3 linked regions of the Homo sapiens genome follow. The protein of the gene in region 1 purifies or fractionates together with the protein of each later gene. This does not show direct contact. Each region holds a gene or a part of one and is shown on either strand. Other genes may lie near its edges.

Evidence for each region. The genes of interacting proteins can lie anywhere in the genome.
Region 2: the proteins of FBXO42 (region 1) and CCDC6 purify together in Homo sapiens (affinity purification with mass spectrometry; 2 studies listed by BioGRID and IntAct, with this or other methods). This does not show direct contact.
Region 3: the proteins of FBXO42 (region 1) and RAB28 purify together in Homo sapiens (affinity purification with mass spectrometry; 2 studies listed by BioGRID and IntAct, with this or other methods). This does not show direct contact.

What each region holds. Positions count from the first base shown.
Region 1 is NC_000001.11:16,246,230-16,251,510, reverse strand, and holds the end of FBXO42 (F-box only protein 42), read left to right. Parts: coding exon 1-841; 3' UTR 842-4,671; downstream 4,672-5,281. UniProt on the Homo sapiens protein: Substrate-recognition component of some SCF (SKP1-CUL1-F-box protein)-type E3 ubiquitin ligase complex. Specifically recognizes p53/TP53, promoting its ubiquitination and degradation.
Region 2 is NC_000010.11:59,812,557-59,819,556, reverse strand, and holds part of CCDC6 (coiled-coil domain-containing protein 6), read left to right. Parts: intron 1-4,801; coding exon 4,802-4,905; intron 4,906-6,761; coding exon 6,762-6,922; intron 6,923-7,000.
Region 3 is NC_000004.12:13,376,341-13,383,340, reverse strand, and holds part of RAB28 (ras-related protein Rab-28), read left to right. Parts: intron 1-1,746; coding exon 1,747-1,850; intron 1,851-6,718; coding exon 6,719-6,796; intron 6,797-7,000.

The DNA of each region.
Region 1 (5,281 bases):
CCTCAATGGTGGGAGTTTGTCTCCAGGAACGGCAGCTGTGGGTGGCTCTTCTTTGGACAGTCCTGTACAGGCCATATCTCCAAGTACTCCATCTGCTCCTGAAGGATACGACCTGAAAATAGGACTTTCTTTGGCCCCCCGACGAGGATCACTACCAGATCAGAAAGATCTGAGATTAGGATCCATAGATCTGAATTGGGATCTGAAACCCGCTTCCAGTAGTAATCCCATGGATGGCATGGACAATAGGACAGTTGGGGGAAGTATGAGACACCCTCCTGAACAGACAAATGGTGTGCATACCCCACCTCACGTGGCCAGTGCCCTTGCAGGGGCCGTCTCCCCAGGTGCCCTGCGTCGGAGTCTGGAAGCCATCAAAGCGATGTCCTCCAAAGGCCCCTCGGCCTCTGCAGCACTAAGTCCTCCTCTTGGGTCTTCTCCAGGCTCTCCTGGGAGCCAGAGTTTGAGCAGTGGAGAAACAGTGCCCATCCCTCGCCCAGGGCCTGCCCAAGGAGATGGACATTCCTTACCTCCCATTGCTCGCCGCCTGGGCCACCACCCTCCACAGTCCCTAAATGTTGGCAAACCCCTATACCAGAGTATGAACTGCAAGCCCATGCAGATGTACGTGCTGGACATTAAAGACACCAAGGAGAAGGGGCGGGTCAAATGGAAAGTATTTAATAGCAGTTCTGTGGTTGGACCTCCTGAAACCAGCCTGCATACCGTGGTACAAGGCAGGGGTGAACTCATCATATTTGGAGGACTCATGGACAAGAAACAGAATGTGAAGTACTATCCAAAAACAAACGCCTTGTACTTTGTACGAGCAAAGAGATAATGTGTTCTAAACCCCTTTCCTTTTCTGTGGCTTTTAATTTGGAATTTTCCAGTGTGTAAGCATTTGGACTGAGAATTGGGAAAACAAAATTACTCCCAGAAGCCAAAACTCTTTAATTCCCAACCGAAGTCACTCCAGGCTGGGATCAAATCTCCATTAAGAAAAAAAATTATATATAAATATATATATATATATTATATAGCCAACTCTGTTGACAAAAAAAGGGAGAGATTTCCATCCTGGTTCAGATAAAGTTGTTGCTGTGTTTTAACAGGGGCTGGGCTGCCTTTTTCTACCTTGCTGGTAACTAGACCAAGAAGTTAGAGAATAGACTAACATCAGTAACTTCCCAAAAGAAACTGAAGAGCCCCCTGTAAATCTTTATGTGGCCTTCTTGGAGTTAAAAAATGAAAGGGCATATGTAAGTTGCAAAGGTGGAGGGTTTTAGACTCTCATGCTTCAGGTGCTGTCGGGGTAAAAGTAACTGTTTTTCCCCTTCTCTTAAAACCACAGAGGACCTGTGACAGCTCTGCAGAAATGCCAGTGCCTGGCCCCCTCTTGCCTTTTATGGCTGAGGAAAGTTACCCAACAAAGGATTTTATTCCACATTTGTGTGCCGGGTCATTGTGAAATAATGTTTATGCAGCCAACATCTGACCGCCTAGTAGTGTCCATTGGTCTTTGGAGTGCTTCTTGTGTGTCTCAGAAAACATTTTGTGTCTGATTGTGGAAATTTCTGACAATCAATCATATTTGGTGGCAAGTTGCCAAAAAACATATTTATTCTCCTCTTTCTTCCCTTAGAACATGGTACTTGGAAACTGCCTTTTCCATTCACTTACAGGCTGCTTTTTTCTTCTACCTTTTTTCTTTTCTTTTTTTTTTTTCATATGTGGTGAAGTCCTAAAACCTGTCTGACTTTCTGTTTCTTTTACAAAGCTCAGGTGCCTACAGAAATCAGAAGCTGCTTAGAAATACTTGTGGAACCCTTTCCCTGGTGTCACTAGGGGGCCAGTAGGGAATTCTAAGATGCCAATATTGTGAGAAATCTTTGAAGCAAGCATCAAAAGATACTGTTTTTTCCCTATGGGCTTCTTTTTACTTCCAAAGCACATTGAGCACACTCATCCCATATTTGTAGAATGTGGAAATTGATTCTGGAAGGGAATTCCAATAACAGTTCTTTTTAGAAATGTTTTTTTCCTTGTGGTGACATATATTCCTCTTCCTGGCTATTGGCAGGTGATGGAGTTGAGAATCATGTACTTGACTTCTTGACGCATGGCTGACCTCAGAAACAGCTCCATCCTTTGCACTTGTCTTCTTCATGTGTCACCCAAATAGGGCTTGGGTTTTTACTTTCACTTCATTTCTGAGATTAAGGTGTAACCAAGTAGAGCATTTCTTTGCTTGATACAGAAAGTTACTAGTCTCAACCATGGCCTGGGCATAGGAGATGTCAAAATAAGTTTATTTCAAATGGCACCATTTAAATAGGGATTTTTGGTGATTTCTCATCAGTGGAAAGAGGATTTTTGTTTTGCCTTTGTTTTGTTTTGAAATTTAAATCCTAATTTCAAAACATCACCTTGCCACCCTGACACTCCTCTTTTTATTATTAGCGTTTCTCAGGCACAAAGCCTGCTGCAGCTGGCCCTGGGTCCTGGCTTTCAGCCAGCATCTGGCAGCCTAAGTGTACTGATAAGTGTGTTTTCTCCTGTTACATCATGCTGAATCCTTTCCCTTAGCCATTAGCTTTTATGATGTGGTCTTCGTAGGAAAGCCACCCTGGTGCCAAGCCTAGCTTGTGGGGAGGGGTATGTGTTCCAGAAACTGCTCTTTGTGTTCCCTTCAATGAGGAAACAACATGTGTCTACTTATGTGGCATCCAACTGCTTGGAGCTCCACACTTCCCTTTCGCGACTCAGGCTCTGGTGCTGTTGCCAATCCTTGCTTGGCAAAGACTGTTCGATCATGTGGGGTCCTTATTTACAAGGGAAAGCTGGGCCAGAAGGCTAGCAATTCAGGTGTTACCGCTATTGCTGTACCTTGTGTTAGGACATTGTGTTTGTGCATGGACTGTGCCTCCAAACTCAGTAGTTCCTATCTAAATATAAAGTATATTAGAAACCTGAAAGTACAGAATCTCAACCTTACAGTCTTTCCCTTAGTCCTGTGGCCTTCCTAAGCCAGCTGTTAACGTGTTGATTCCTTCCACTTCCCCCAAGTAGGCAGGCAACAGATATGTTGATTGTCTTAGAAAGTAATCTGGTTCCTCTGAACTCCATTGAATTCCAGTTTGACGCATACTGCCTGGAACCAGACTGTTTGCTTACAGCTTTTTAAGAAAAATCTGCCTTGTCTGCCCCCATTATGGTTGGTCTTGGTAGCTCCTGGGCACTGTGGGCGTGTACCATGGGAAAGTGATTCAACACAGTGAAGGTGATTGTCTCCTCAGGCCTCCTGAAGCCACCTGTGCGGTGGGACTTCACGTGTCTCGGCCAAGGCGAGCATTTCCACAATGCCGTGGATGCTGCAGTCAGGCCAGATTGAACCATGACCCCATTTTTCACATGATACCAATTTTGTCTTAAAATTCACTGAGAAAAATGAGACTAAATTTTTTTTAACCCTCAGGAGCACCTGAAGCAAATATTTATCCGTATTTATTGAAAATTCATTTTGTTTCTACTTGAAGCTTTAACCCCTTCCATTCCTGCAAGTGTGCCTTTTGAGAGCTCCCATGGCCTAGTGACTTCACTGGTCACCTTGTCCATCTTACTTAAGAATTTTAGTCTCTCCCTACCCTCTTGGACAGAGCTTCCTGTTCTCTTATTTCACAGGTTATACAGCAGAGCGGGTTTTGTGTTTTCATTCCTATTTCCACCCTTCATTTGGTTGGTGGACTCCACAACCTCACCCTACCCTACACTTTGGGAGCACAAATTTGGTGTTGAAACAAGCTTAAATTTCATTTTAGGGCATACTGGGCTTACTCTCCTCCCAGCTGTCTGTGGATTGATTTGATTTTAATGTTCGAGTTTTACAGCAACAGCTGAAAACCATGAACTATTCTAGGAACTGTGTTGGAACTCTTTAAAATAAAGAAAAGAGGAGGAGGAGGAGGAAGAAAGAAAACCAACTTAAGAAGCCTTGACTTTGGAGGACAGAAAGCCACCAGCCAATGGAGAACAAAGAGATGTTTCCCTTTCCTTTCTTTCACCTTGTCATTCTGGGTTTCCTTCTGCTTCACTCTTTCCTTCCCCCTTAAAAGTGGTATTCCTGGTTGGTCTGTCTGTCTGTCCTTGTCCTTGTGGTGATCCTGGCATGGTGATATGCTCCACTTTGCATTATCCATGGTCTCTTACCAGCGCACAAGTCAGTGGGGAGGATCTAACCACGCCTGGTGGTGAGGAAGCTGAATTTCCAGGCCTGCGTCCCATGTAGCCTCTCCATGAACTGCAGAAGGCATGTTCTGCATGGTTACCAGTAAGTGGCTCCCTCTCACCGTGTTCATTGTCAAATGAGAGCAAACTTTAGGTGTTGGCTCCATTGTACACTCTACTTGCTCTGCTCCCCTCCCTCCAACCAGGGTTCATGTCAGTGCACACCCCATGTGCCCTGGCGAAGCTGGTGCTGTGAGTGATGTTTCCCATACAACTCAGGGATGCCAGGTGGCTTACCCTGAGATAGTCATTTTGGGCACATAACAGTGTAGGAATGAAACATGGATTTCATTGATATTTAAATCTGTCAATTTCATTTTTTGTTAATGTTTTCCCCTGATGACTTTTTAGCAATTTAACAAATAAAATGGACAATTGTCTTAACTGTTTTATTAGCAAAAAAAGAAAAAGAAAAGAGGTCTGGCCGGGCGCAGTGGCTCACGCTTGTAATCCCAGCACTTTGGGAGGCCGAGGCAGGCGGATCACAAGGTCAGGAGTTTGATACCAGCCTGGCCAACATAGTGAAACCCTGTCTCTACTAAAAATACAAAAATTAGCCGGGCATGGTGGCAGGCACCTGTAATCCCAACTACTTGGGAGGCTGAGGCAGGAGAATTGCTCCAACCCAGGAGGCAGAGGTTGCAGTGAGCCAAGTTTGTGTCACTGCACTCCAGCCTGGGCAACAGAGTTAGACTGTCTCAAAAAAAAAAAAAAGAGGTCAATCACAGTGGCTCATGTCTGTAATCCCACCACTTTGGGAGGCTGAGGCAGGAGGATCACTTAGACCAGGAGTTTGAGACCAGCCTGGGCAATATAGTGAGACCCCATCTCTAAAAAAAAAAAAATTTACCCAAGCATGGTGGTGTATGCTTGTGGTCCCAACTACTCAGGAGGCTGAATGGGAAGATCACACTTGAGCTAGGGAGGTCAAGACTGCAGTGAGCCATGATTGTGCCACTGCATGCCAGCCTGGGCGACAAAGTAAGACCCTGTT
Region 2 (7,000 bases), on another chromosome or scaffold:
GTTTTAATTGGCGGAACTGTTATGTTCACTTTGGCTCTAAGTATATAGGATTTGGAATTAGGTGGGCAGGAAGTGGTGGGGAAACTGATAAAGAACTTCAGGGGAAATTAACCAAGGGACTCAATATGATTTCCTCTAACTTCTCTGCTCTTTAATGTCAGCCAGAGCTCCTCAACAATGCTGAAAAGTTGAGATTTTTAAAACTGAAAAAACAAGAGGCCCTGCTCTTTTCAGGGTTAAAGATAATATAGAGTCCTGTAGCACTGCCAGCCTATGTAATGAAATACAGTAAGTCCTCACTTAACATTGTCAGTATAGTTCTTGGAAACTGACTTTAAGTGAAACAACATATATGAAAATCAATTTTACCAGAAGCTGATTGATATAAACAAGAGTTAAGTTCCTATGACATATTTCTGGTCACAAAAACATTATCACACTTCTAAATAAAGACCCAACATACTTCTGATATTAAATATTGAAACAAATATGAGTTATGCATATATTAAAGATTAATGAAAACCGTATAATTACCCCATTTTTAGTGAATCAGTGAGTGATGGTCATAGTAGTGATGTGTTAAATCAAGGGATAAATGTTTGCAAAGTAAAAATTGTAAGGAGCACCTCCTCCCAACTCACAGTTCAAAAGCAAATAGTAACAATTACAGCGGCTTGCTGAATACTTGCATACTGCATCATTGATTTTCATGTGTTTGTATGATTAGCATATACTTTATGAATTTGTATTTTACAATAATTTGTACTCATTCATTTTCTAACGTGCTTATTCCAGTTCAGATCAAGGGTGGCTGGAGCCTGTCCTGGCAGCTCAGGGCACAAAGCAGGACCCAATCCTGGATGGGGCACCAACTCATTGTAGGACACACTCATACACACACTCTTACTCACTCCAGAGGGACTATGTAGACATGCCGATTGCACATCTTTGGGACATGGAAGTAAACTCGAGTATCTGGAGAAAACCCACACAGACATAAGGAGAACATGTGAACCCTACATAGACAGAGGCCCCACTGAGAATCTGCTTCCCCCCCCCCCGTCAACATTATAATAAAAGGACGTTGAACATTCAAGGACCTACTGTACTTGAGAATCCACACGGCTGAGCTGGGGCTTCCTGTGTTGCCTGCATCATGGAAATAAATTAGTAGAGCAAATTGGGACAGCAAACCCAAGTTTCACACTCAGGGTGCCCACGTTTGCTGAGGTGGGCAGTAGATTGATAGCTGGTAACTCTACCAACAGATGCCAGGAAGGAGCCGAGATTCACGTAGAGCTCCAACCCATGTTTCCTGATCTCGTCTGTTTCCAAAATCGCTCATAGACTCCCTAAACTGTCCTTATTTCCCTGGCATCAGCTACCCCCAACTCTGCTACTCCCAAGTATTGTTGGCAAAGGAGATAGGCCCACAAACCACAGCTTGATTTGCCCTAAATCCATGTTTCCCTCAAGTTCCTCTGTACTTGCTGGTTGGACAGGACCCAGCAATTTTGGCTGCCATGGTGACCGATATCCGTTCCTATCTTGGTGGCATGACTGCCTGAGTCATGTCATCTTGCAGGCTAGTGGTTTCCTCAGCTTTAAAATGATGATTTGCCATGCTGCTTCTGGCTCTAAATGCGTGTGACGGAACTAGCCCCGACTGAAGACAGCTACTGTCTTGACATTGGGCAGGGAATGACAGAATGGATAGGCCAGAAAGGGACCACAGGCATCATCCAGGCCAAACTTCTCATTTCATAGATGAGGGCATCGGAGCTACAGCAGCTGAGTGACCTGCTCAGAGTCACATGCCTCATTAGTTACATATGGGTAAAGACAGCTTTGTCTTGATTTTGCTTCTCAGAGTTATTGATTAGTATTATGAGTATTTACTCTAAAAGTAATTGAGTATGCATTTCTCCACTAGACATCATACCGCAAAATGATGCCTGCTTGAATTTTTTTCTTGCTTATCAACTACCTCTACCTCCTATGATGCTTTTAAACACTGGAATTGGGATCCTTAAAGGTAAATGCCTCATAGTTATTTGTTTAAATAAACATAATTCTGAGGCTGGGGGCAGTGGCTCACACCTGTAATCTCAACACTTTGGGAGGCCTAGACAGAGGATTGCTTGAGGCCAGGAATTCAAGACCAGCCTGGGCAACGTAGCAAGAACTCATCTCTACAAAAAATAAAAAATTAACCAGGTGTGGTGGTGTGTGCCTGTAGTCCCAGCCACTTGGGAGGCTGAAGCAGGAGGAATGCCTGAGCCCAGTGGGTTAAGGCTACAGTGATCCATGATCGTGCCACTGCACTCCAGCCTGGGCAACAGAGCGAGACCTTGTCTCAAGAAAAGAAAAGAAATGACTGTGGATTGTACTTCAAAGCTTGGCCAAAGTGTATGATGAATGCAGAGAATCACAAGGTTTAATAGGAGTCATATAAGGGTCCCACAATTTCTCATTGTTGCTGCAGGTAGGAATTGTTTAACATTCTGAGGAGCATTTGCACGTTAGTGGGGTCCCAACTTTGCGGCACAATATATTTGACTTATTTTGACACCCTGCACCTCCTCCTTTTTGCCCTTGAACTGTTCTTCAGAATCAAATTCTGCCATGCAAAAACAACATATTTTGAAGCTCTGTTTCCAGTTTGCTACATAATCATGGCTTATTCACTTGTCAAATAAGCCCTCTAATATATATTGATGGCCTATAAGGTGCCAGATGTTATTCTAGATACTGAGGATGTACTAAGGAATGAAACAGACAAGACAAGTCCCTTGTAGGACTTACATTGTGGAGGGCTGGAACAGAAATAGAACGGATATCCAGATATAGTGATTATCATAGCCAAAAAGTGTTGAGTGCTTTCTAAGTGCCCATTAGTTATCAATGGTTTACCTAGATTTACAAATGTAATGCTCACTGTAATCCAATGAGCCAGACATTATTTTTGTCCCTTACTTTGCAAATGGTAAAATTATATCTAGTAATTTTCTCAACATTTTCTAACTAGTGATTGATGGAGCTGGGATTTGAACCTAGGCATTTGGCTCAAAGTCTATGATCATAAGACAGAAGTGTAATTACAGGAGTCTCCCCCCAATGCATTGGCTGCTGTTTTGTGACTGTACCTGTTTGTAGGAAATATTTTAAATATTCAAATGGCCAGTTGTTTCTACAGCTATTTTTATGGCTTTGAGAGGAGAAAAGAAAAGCCTAGAGCTGTGTCGTCACAGGAGAGTTTTTCCCATCTGTTTGAGACCTCCTTTTTTTCTCTAAACTTAGAACATAATGATATCATTATCCTTATATCATTTCCTCTCAGGTCTTGATTGTTCAGGTTCTGAGGCAGCTGATTTTATGCATATTCATTCTGGCTCAGATGTGGAACAAGTAGCTGCTCACCTTCATTGGCTGTCCTGTGCTCCTGTGTGAATATGGGCAAGTCTTTTGCTCTCTGTGAGCTCCTTAAGGACCTTGGGTGGTGTTGGTAGTACTAACCATCTCGGGAGGTTGAGATTGTTGCTTCTTAAGACTAAGCTACGAAGAGTTTCAGAAAGGGGAATGTCATTTGGCTGTAAAAGTAAAACCGCACTTTGGATATTATTTTCTGATGTTTGATTGCTTTAAAAGACTACATTTTATTCATGTTTTTGGTTCTGCCTTATGTATACACACGGGATCTTTGGATGAGGAGCTTGCCTCTGTGACCCACTAAGGAAATGTGGAATCTATTAACATCTTTGTGCAATCAAGAATAATTTGTTGACTCAACCATTGAAAGGTGAATTGCCACTGGTTGAAGAAATAACATGGAAGCAGTAGCATAGGCTCTTTGCATTAAGAAAAAATTTTTAATTATTTAATATGTCAAGTACGGAGAATGATAGAATACATGTCCTCTACTCATTGCTATGAAACCTCTTGCACTTTCAGTCTCTCTTACCAGCCCTCTTTTTCTACATATCTGTTTCATACTGTTTCACAAGTATATAATTGTTTCATTTACTGTCTTGACCCCCACTAAAAGGAAGATCCATGAGGGCAGAAATTCCTGACTCCTTGATTCACTGCTATGCCCCCATTATCCAGTCATTGTTCTCAGTATTTATTACATATTGCTCAATATTGATTAATTGAATTTTCCCATGTTTGCTTCATTGAAATAGAACACTGTTGGGGTTCCCTCCGCAACTGCAAAGCCTCCCCCAAATCAAATTTTCTTCCTTCCCTAAATCCTTAGAGTAACCTAGAGTAACCAGTATTGTGGATTTGGTGTTTATCATATTTTGTGCGTGTTTTTATATCTTAGTACATGTTTATTTATCTCCATTAGCCAGTATGTAGAGTGTTTGGGAGCTTTTAAGAGTTATTTATATGAATAGTAATATAACCTTTCTGACTTACTGTAAGGGACAAGCCCGGAAGAATAACTGTAAGCCCAGAACTGTAAGGGACAAGCCCAGAAAAGTCCTGATATGACTAGTACACCGAACTCCCCTAAAGACCTCTCTAAGGAGGACTTTCCACTTGCCTTGAATAAATGCTGAAACAAGCAATGCATTTCATGTACCAGACAACAATTAAGCATTAACATCCAAGAATGAACCTATCTAGTTTTTTTCAAAGTTTAAGAACTAGATGCACTTAATATGTTTGTGCCAGAAAATTGGCCACATGTTTGCAGTATTCTCCAAGAAAAGGGGTCCTAATTGTTCAATCAAAAAATGTATTAACAAAGTATAAGTGGCCTGACACTTTGGTAACACTTTTTTCCTTCCTTTAGTTGAGACGGGAGAAGATTGACCTTGAAAATACATTGGAACAAGAACAAGAAGCACTAGTTAATCGCCTCTGGAAAAGGATGGATAAGCTTGAAGCTGAAAAGCGGTTTGTTTAGTCTTGCTGTTCAGTATGGGTGTGTGTGTGTGTGTGTGTGTGTTGCTGCTCTGGGTGTGACTGAGGAATAGCAGTAGGACACCTTAATTCTTTGGTGATGCACATCATTTTAATTGGCCAAAGGAAAAAAAATGTTGAAAGCCTTCTGAACTATTCCCATGTTGGGCACCTCTTTATTCTTTGCTATCATACTGTCCCAGTAGAATTTCTTTTCATTTGGTGTTACAAGGCTATGAGAGAATTAGTCATGCTGCTATTGTTCACCTTTAAAGTATTTTCAAGAATGGTTGCAATTTCAACTTTCCACCTTATTGAACTGGCTTCCTCAGTTGTTTTGTAAAGTACATAGGGTATACTGCGTACTATTATTTATACATCTCTGGAATTTACTTCTTTAGGAAGCCTGAGATTTTAATAATAAAATTGTTTTAAAACCTACTGTAAAGAAATACCTTTACATACTTAAGGCTAGGATTCTTTATATAAAATGTATGTACTTGGAAGTGGAATGTCACTCAACAGCAAACATTTCTTAAACCTCTTTGTGCAAGATAGTTAAGCCCTTATTTTCAAGCACTGAGTACTTTGGAGTGTGTGAGGCAGGGCTTGTAAGAATGGGAAGAAGATTCTGTATGTGGAATGTGTGTACGGGTGTAAAAAGTGAGTTTCTTAAAAATGGTCATTAATCTACTTCACCAAGATCTTTTGTTTGCTACCCAGAGCCCTTCCTCCTTAAGTATTTGGTTTGGATGCATATTTGTAATTGTTTTGAGTTCATGTCTACATTTGCAAAATACAGGCATACCACATAGCTTTAAGAAAAGTGAAAATTAGAGCTATATCTATAAGAAATACTTGTTATAATCATATCCACTATGCTTTACTGATAGGTATTATTGTAGCAGTACTAATAAGTTGAATTACGAAAAGTCATTTTATGTAATAAATGCAGGGACCATTATAATATTTAACACACTAGTTTTCTCAAGGGTAGACCTGGATGGAGGTAACTCAGTTTGCTCCTGGACAAACTCAAAGGTACAAAGCAAAAACAAAACAAAAACCCCAGCAGCTATGGAAAGGGATTTAGAGATCTGCTGCCAAAGGAAGACTTTGTAAAAGGCAGTTGGAGGTTTTACATGTATTAGTGCCAAATTATTGGGTTGAACAGTATGGAAGTTTGCATTTTGTAGGTCAGAGCTATTGAATATCAGTATTTTATATCCTTCAACATAAAAATAATTGGTAAAGAAGGTGGCACTACTAATTATTAACCTAACAATTTTGGTTTTGTTTTTAACTTTTTACCTTTGCTGTGGCCAAAAGCAAAGGGCCGCTAGTCCAGTTTGCCATGCCCTTGCAATTAGTTTTGCAGGAGGGAATTTTAGAAGTTGAGTCTCTGTGTTACTTTACCCTCCAAGGAGATTCATAGTAGCTTAGAAGCTTCAATCAAAAGCCGTAAGAAAATGGAATTTCCTCAGCATCTTCATGCACTAAACCCAAGAAGTTGAACATTGAGTCAGCAGGTATTTCTAAGTGCATACTGTATTCCAGGCATAATTATCAGATCCTGTTGTTAAATAAAGACTTTTCAGTATTGTTTAATTTAAAACATTTAATAGTCATTTAAAAGGAAAAAGGGAGATTAGAATCAGCTCTGCCCTTTGAAGTGAGACACCACGTAAGGGCAGAAGTTTGATGTAAAATGGGCAGAGGAATTAAGCAACCCTGTGAATTCTGGCAGTAAACAGGAGTTTGCTTTTAAAACAAACCTGCCAGCTAGTATGTTGTTTTGTCTTTTCAAGGAAAACTGTTAGTCATTGTTGGAATTTTTCTTTTCAATGAAGAATCCTGCAGGAAAAATTAGACCAGCCCGTCTCTGCTCCACCATCGCCTAGAGATATCTCCATGGAGATTGATTCTCCAGAAAATATGATGCGTCACATCAGGTTTTTAAAGAATGAAGTGGAACGGCTGAAGAAGCAACTGAGAGCTGCTCAGTTACAGCGTACGTAGCCTCTGGTTTCACTAGTTTCATGCCTGTAGAATTAATAACTTTACCAAATATAGGGTATTACCAACATTT
Region 3 (7,000 bases), on another chromosome or scaffold:
AAAAACAAATGTACACACACATTAAGTGACACAACTTTTATTTTTATTTATTTATTTTTTAATGGATGGTGATTTCAATGGGTGGCGATTTCAATGGGGATTTTTCCTCGTGACAAGATTTGTTCTTACTCTTGTTGAATTAGAAAAGTTAGCTCCAATATTATGATAAATTGGATATATAAATGTCAGTGCTAATAGCTTAGTATTTTAGTCTTCCACAAATTGATGCCTGTGGTATCTGGACATTCCTTGCCTGTTCTTGTAAATAAGGAGATAGTGATGTTTAAGGAATAGCACTCTGGCCAGAAGAGCAAAAAAAACAAAACAAAGCAAAACAAAAAGACCAGGTGCTGTGGCTCACGCCCGTAATTCTAGCACTTTGGGAGGCCGAGGTGGGTGGATCATTTGAGGTCAGGAATTCAAGACCAACCTGGCCAACGTAGTGAAACCCCATCTCTACTAAAAATACAAAAAATTAGCCGGGCGTGGTGGCAGGCGCCTGTAATCCCAGCTACTTGGGAGGCTGAGGCAGGAGAATTGCTTGAACCCAGGAGGCAGAGGTTGCAGTGAGCCGAGATCATGCCATTGCACTCCAGCCCGGGTGACAGTGCAAGACTCTGTCTCAAAAAAAAAAAAAAAAAAAAAAATTCCATATTTTCCAAGGTAAGCAATATAAATGGGGCTCAGGAATACCCCATTAGATTAAAAAAAATCTCCTAGAGAGAGAACCCTTGAGCCTACAAACTAAAGACTTTCAATATAATTTTAAATAAAGTCTTTTATGTAGTATGAGTGCATTTTTTAGTTGATAATCAATTGGCACTATTATGTAGGCTTACTAGATTTGCAAATTTACAAGTTTTTACAAGTCATTTGGGTCCCTTCCTCAGGAAATCAGTTTAAGTTTTTTTTTTCCTATATTGACTCAAAGAGCCTAGTTGTCCTTAAATCCTGTGAATATATTTGCCTTATAATTTGACGGCATTGAATCAACACCCTTATAGGGTCTGTAGTGTTGTAAAAAGAGAAACTGTTAAATAAAGGATCACATTTGGAAAAATACACTGTGCTGGATAAAACCAGTATTGGATATGAGTACTGTGCCTTGCTTTAAAGCACCTACAACTATTTAAGGAAATACATCCTTGCCCCTTACTCTCAAAATGGATACTCTAGATGGAAAACAACTGAACTATGTCTTTGTGAAATTAAAGTATGGCTATAAATTAATGTAAACACACAATGTAATATTGATCTCTTAAGCAGAAAGTTATGTATTTGTGCTAACATTCAAGCTTATAGAGATTACAGAGCTAATTATTAAAGTAATTAAACTCTTTCAAGCCAAATATGCTTGGGTAAGTACAACTTGCCTTCAATTAATCACCATGTTTAAATGTACTATATTAAGTAGATCTTTGTTGAGCATCATCAGTGTGCCTGAACTTATACAGATGATAATAATAATGATAGCGCACATTTTTTTTTTAGCACTTCTGTGCTGGTCTTTGTGCATTATACATAGATTAATTATCAAATAACTCTCTACAAAATAGGTATATTTATTATTCCCAGTTTATAGATGTGGAAACTGAGTCATAAAGAGGTTTAATAAATTGTCCAAGGTTGCACAGCTGATGTCGAAGCTGGAATATAATATTGGAAAGCAAGTCAAATTTAAACATGTTAAAAACGTTTTGATAGACTCTAATATTGAATTATTTTCTTTCTTTAACACCTTTCTAGTTGATTTGGAGCATATGCGAACAATAAAACCTGAAAAACACTTACGGTTTTGCCAGGAAAATGGTTTTAGTAGCCACTTTGTCTCAGCCAAGACAGGAGACTCTGTAAGTAAAATAATGAATACTGTATGTGATGTTTTCCTTTTATTTACTAACATTCCTAGGAAGTATACTTCCACTATTTAACTTTTGGAGCAAATTAATTCCTATTGAAAACATGAAATTCCTTAGATTAGATATAACATGTTTATTCTGGTTATATTACTTTTATAATTTATTTAACATAATTTTAGTTATTTTTAAAAGGGGAATTAAAATGAATATAAACCACCCGTAATGTCAGTATCTAGAGATAACCACTCATAACCTCATATGATTCCATCTAGTCTCTTTTCCTGATGCTCACACTAGTGCTGCTGCCTGTGGCTAGGAGATGGCATTCATTGAGTGCTTACTTTATTATAGATATTGTACTACTCTGATTATCTCCATTTTATAGATGAGTCTTAGAGAAATTATGTAATGGGGTCCAGATTACACGGCTAATAAGTGGAGGAGAGAGGATTTGTGAAGGCAAATAGTGACACTCTGGGGCTCACAGTCACAACCCTATATTTATTTTTAAAAATTAAGATTATAATATAGAAATAATTTTATATTTTACTTTTTACTTAATATTTTTATTGTTCCCATGTCATTTAATAATAGATTGAATAATTCATTTAATAAATGTTCAGAAATTTATTCAATCTTATTCTTATTGTGGAACATATAGGTTGTTAAGTTTTGAACATAATGTTCTAATGTAAAATTTTGTCCGTAAGCTTTTGGTGTTTTGATTATTTTCTTTAGGTAGATTCCTTGAAAGGAGATTGAAACATTGCCAAATCACCACCAGAAAGACTAAATTCATGCTATCACCAGCATTGTATGATTGCCATAACTACATCCTTTTAACATTCAGGATTTATCTATGTATTTATTTTAAAATCTTTGTCAAATTGGTAGGCCCCAAAAAAGAAAAAAGATACTTCACTATTTAAATTTGAATTTCTTTGATTATAATTGAGGTTGAAATTTTAAAAGTTTTATTAGTTATTCACTTTCTGCTTTTTACTTGTTATAACTTTCTATTGTATTTAGAAATTTTCTATGACCATTTTTATATTAGTGCTAATAGTCATGTATCATAATTTTTTCAAATAATCATCACTGACCCCTATTTGACTATTTTTCCAGTTGACATTTTTCAACTAAAAGAAGTTTGAAATTTTTCTGTGGTTTAAGATTTTTGATGTTTTTCTCTGTAATATCCTTTATAGTTTTACACCTAAAATAAATAATATGATGGGGGTTTATTCTTTCTTTTGGTAAGACCCATTAAAAAATTTGGCCTCCTGGAATCCTTTCCCCTCAGACAATGTGAACATGGGCACATACTCACCCATCCATGCCTTTTTAAAAAATGTAATGTCAATAATTGTAGATAAACTCATCCATGGATTCACTGGGCTTCTACCCTCACTTAATCTTCCCAGGGGCTTTTTTTGCCATTTCAGAATTATTTTAACTTGTAGTATTTTAGCTTGTTTTTAACCACTTAGTATTTTTTTGCCACTTAGTGTTTTTTGTTTGCTTATATTGAACCACTATTAAAAAACTTCATTTTTTTTAAGTGGTACTTTGAAATGGTTTGTTCTTATGAAATTACTTTAAGACTTGTAATCATTTCTAGCTCCAGGTAACTTTCTCATTGCTTGAGGAGATGAGCTCCTGGGTTACTATACTTTCTCTGATATTCCTATGTCATAATTCTTAGTGATTTCAGTATCCTTGTTTCTCCCTGATGCCACCTTAGTCACTCTTGCATACTACAGATCACATCATTACAAATTACTGTGGCTCTTCTATTATCTCAGTATCAGGCATCCTAATCACTAACCACCAACCATCTTCTATTTCACACCTTTGAGTGTCCTAACACAACCATTCTCAACCCTAGCAAGACCTACAAGACATTGATCCTAACACCTTTGCAAAATCTTAACCTCTTTTCATGTCTTCATTTTTCTCTCTTCTGAGCTTAAATCTCATGGCCAGTCCAAATCATTGCCATGCATATACTCTCAGTTCCCTTTTCCCTCTTTCATTTTGTCAGATCCGCTTGGCTAAACCTTAATTCTGGTTTAAACCAAGTCTCCACTTTTTCATGGGTGTACCCATGAACATGACCAGAGAAAAACACAGAGGCATGCTGGAGTTTTCACTTTAAGTTCACAATCACTAATCTCAAGTGGGCCCTTAATGCTGCTCAGTAATTATGCTCTATATCCCTAGTCTATCACCTCTTCCCCTCACCTAGGTGACTTTTTTTTTTTTTTTTTTTTTTTGAGACAGAGTTTCACTGTGTCCTCCGGGCTGGAGTGCAGTGGTGCGATCTCAGCTCACTGCAGCCTCCGCCTCCTGGGTTAAAGCAATTCTCCGCCTCAGCCTCCCGAATAGCTGGGATTACAGGCACCCACCACCACGCCTGGCTAATTTTTTGTATTTTTAGTAGAGATGGGGTTTCACCATCTTGGCCAGGCTGATCTTGAACTGACCTCGTGATTCACCCGCCTCAGTCTCCCAAAGTGTTGGGGTTACAGGTGTGAGCCAATGCACCAGGCCGATGACTATTTCATAGCTTCTCTTCTCTCTTCAAATGTTCAAACTATCCTCCTCTATTCTATCAGCTGATGACCTTGTTTCCTATTTTATAAGAAATTTGAAACAAACAGAAGACAACTTCTACATACTGCTGCTACCAGGTCTAACCTCATCCTACTTACCCCATCTGTTCTCATATCTTCTGTCTTCTCTGTGGTTACTATGGGATCTATTCTAGCTAGGGCCAACTTCTCCATTGTGTACTAGTCCCATTTATCTTTGCTGAATCAAGGATATTGCTTTAGCAGTTCTCTCTCTTTCATATGTATTATTTTTTTTCCACCTACTGGATTATTCTTTCAACACAGAAAATATTATGACTTCTTTTATCTTAAAAACAAGAAAACTCTTGATGCCACATTTTTTCTCTAGCTGTTGCCTTATTTCCTTCCTTCACTTTCCAGTGGATGTTTTAAAGAATTGTCTCTAGTTCTTCTTTTGCCAGTTTCTCTTCCAGTTCCAGCAGACTTTTGCCCTCAGTATTTTACCCAAACTGCTATTATTCACGTCATCAATGGCCTCCTTTTTGCTGAATCCAATGGTCAGTACTCAGCCCTCATCTTATTTTATTAAGTAGCAACATAAATAATTGCTGATCACTCTCGTCTCTTTGAAATACTCTCTGCACTTAGCTTCCAGGATACAACGCCTCCTGGTTTTCTTCCTGCTTCACTAACTACTCTGTCAGTCCCCTTGACTAATTTTCTTATGTCTCCAGCCAACTAAGGTTCAGTCCTTTGATAATCTCTTTTTCTACACTTATTCCTAATGGCTTTATTTAGTCTTCTGGCTTTGCTCAGACTTTTCCCCTGAACTGTAGACTCTTATATCCAACTGCCCGCTCAGCATCTCCTCTTAGATGTCTAATAGGCTGCCCAATTTAACATGTTTAGAACTGAGCTCTTGCTATTCCCTCCTCAAATCTCTCACAGTCTTCCTCACTTTAATAAATAGCAGATCTACCAGTTGCTCAGGCCAAAAAAACTTTGGAGCCTTTCTTGACTCCTCTTTTTCTCTCACACCCCACATCTGTCACCAAATCCCCTTGGCTGTACTTTGAAAATATATCCAGAACCTGATGACTGTTTCTTACTTTGTCCACTTCTACCACTTTGGTTCAGCCTCCATAATATTTTACATTAGTTTCTTTGCTGATTCTGTTTTTGTACACTTGGTCTCCTATAGTGAATGTTCAATACAAACAACCAGACTAATGCTGTTAAAATAAAAGTCACATTGGGCCACCCTCCCATGCCTTCCATTTCATTTGGAGTAAACGCCAAAGTCCTTCCAGTAGCCTACCAGATTTTACATGGTTTGTACTCCCTTCATCTCTTTGCTCGTCTTCTTTTATAACCACTCTTTCTCTCCACTCCACCACAGTACTTTTCCTGTTGTTCCTTGACCATTGACCATCAGTGAACTAAAATATGCTTCTTAGGGTACAAGTGGCATAAGGCTATCAGGAATATGTATCCTTTTTTGTTAGAAGTAAAAATTAATAAAGTTTTGATAAATATTCTATAAGCATGTGATGAATAGGGATAAGAATATGGTAGGACATTTATGAAGAAAAGATAAGTTATACTACAGTAAATGTCAGGATTGGAACTCTAGTAATTACAGCAGACCTGACATAAGCTAACTATGTGTGGAAAGGCTATTTATAGAAAAATATTTGTCTATTTTTGTTTAATCGTAATGGCATATATTTTTCCTTTGCTCTGAACTGATAAAATATAGTAAACAGTACCAAGTTGCTTTACTCAAGAAACATGGAGAATTTGCTGGAATGATATGAAAGGCACAGAGAGTATTAAAGTGTTAGAAACTAAGACCTTTTGAGATAGGCCAAAGGTGGCTAAAAGGACCAAGATAAAACCGACAGTGAAAAACTAGGTTGGTAAAGTATAGATTATTTTTATTTTCTTCAGGAATTATGGGAGTTTTTATAGTAGTAAGTAGGATTGTTTTGTTGTTTTTTAAAGTGGTAGCTGTAATCATCATGTTAAATCTTTCATGTGTGTGTTTAGAGAAAATGATCAATTCATTGAATTGCATGGAGTTTTAAATTATGGCTTTATAATTTAAAAATTATTATATTTAAAATGTTGCTACATTTGACAAATAAAGCTATTTTTGGAATCACCTGCTATATCATATTTTTGCAATTATTGCTGTTTATCATTTTTAAGAAAATTCTGTTTATTTGAAGATAACTTAAGCATGCCTCTTTTAAATCATTTAAACCCATTTTTGTTATGTAGGTCTTCCTGTGCTTTCAGAAAGTTGCTGCTGAAATCCTTGGGATCAAATTAAACAAAGCAGAAATAGAACAGTCACAGGTGATTACCTTGAACTTTATATTTAAAAAATTAATGAATTTCTTACAAGGCATTAATTTTCACCCATAAATTCTTTCCCATTTATGCCTTCTGTGTACGTATCTCTAAAAGCTTTGGGAATAGATTGTATGTATGAATCAGTGTTTATTGCAGAAGATGGAGAATGTTAACTTTTTGCCAAATTATGATACCCTTGAAACCTCA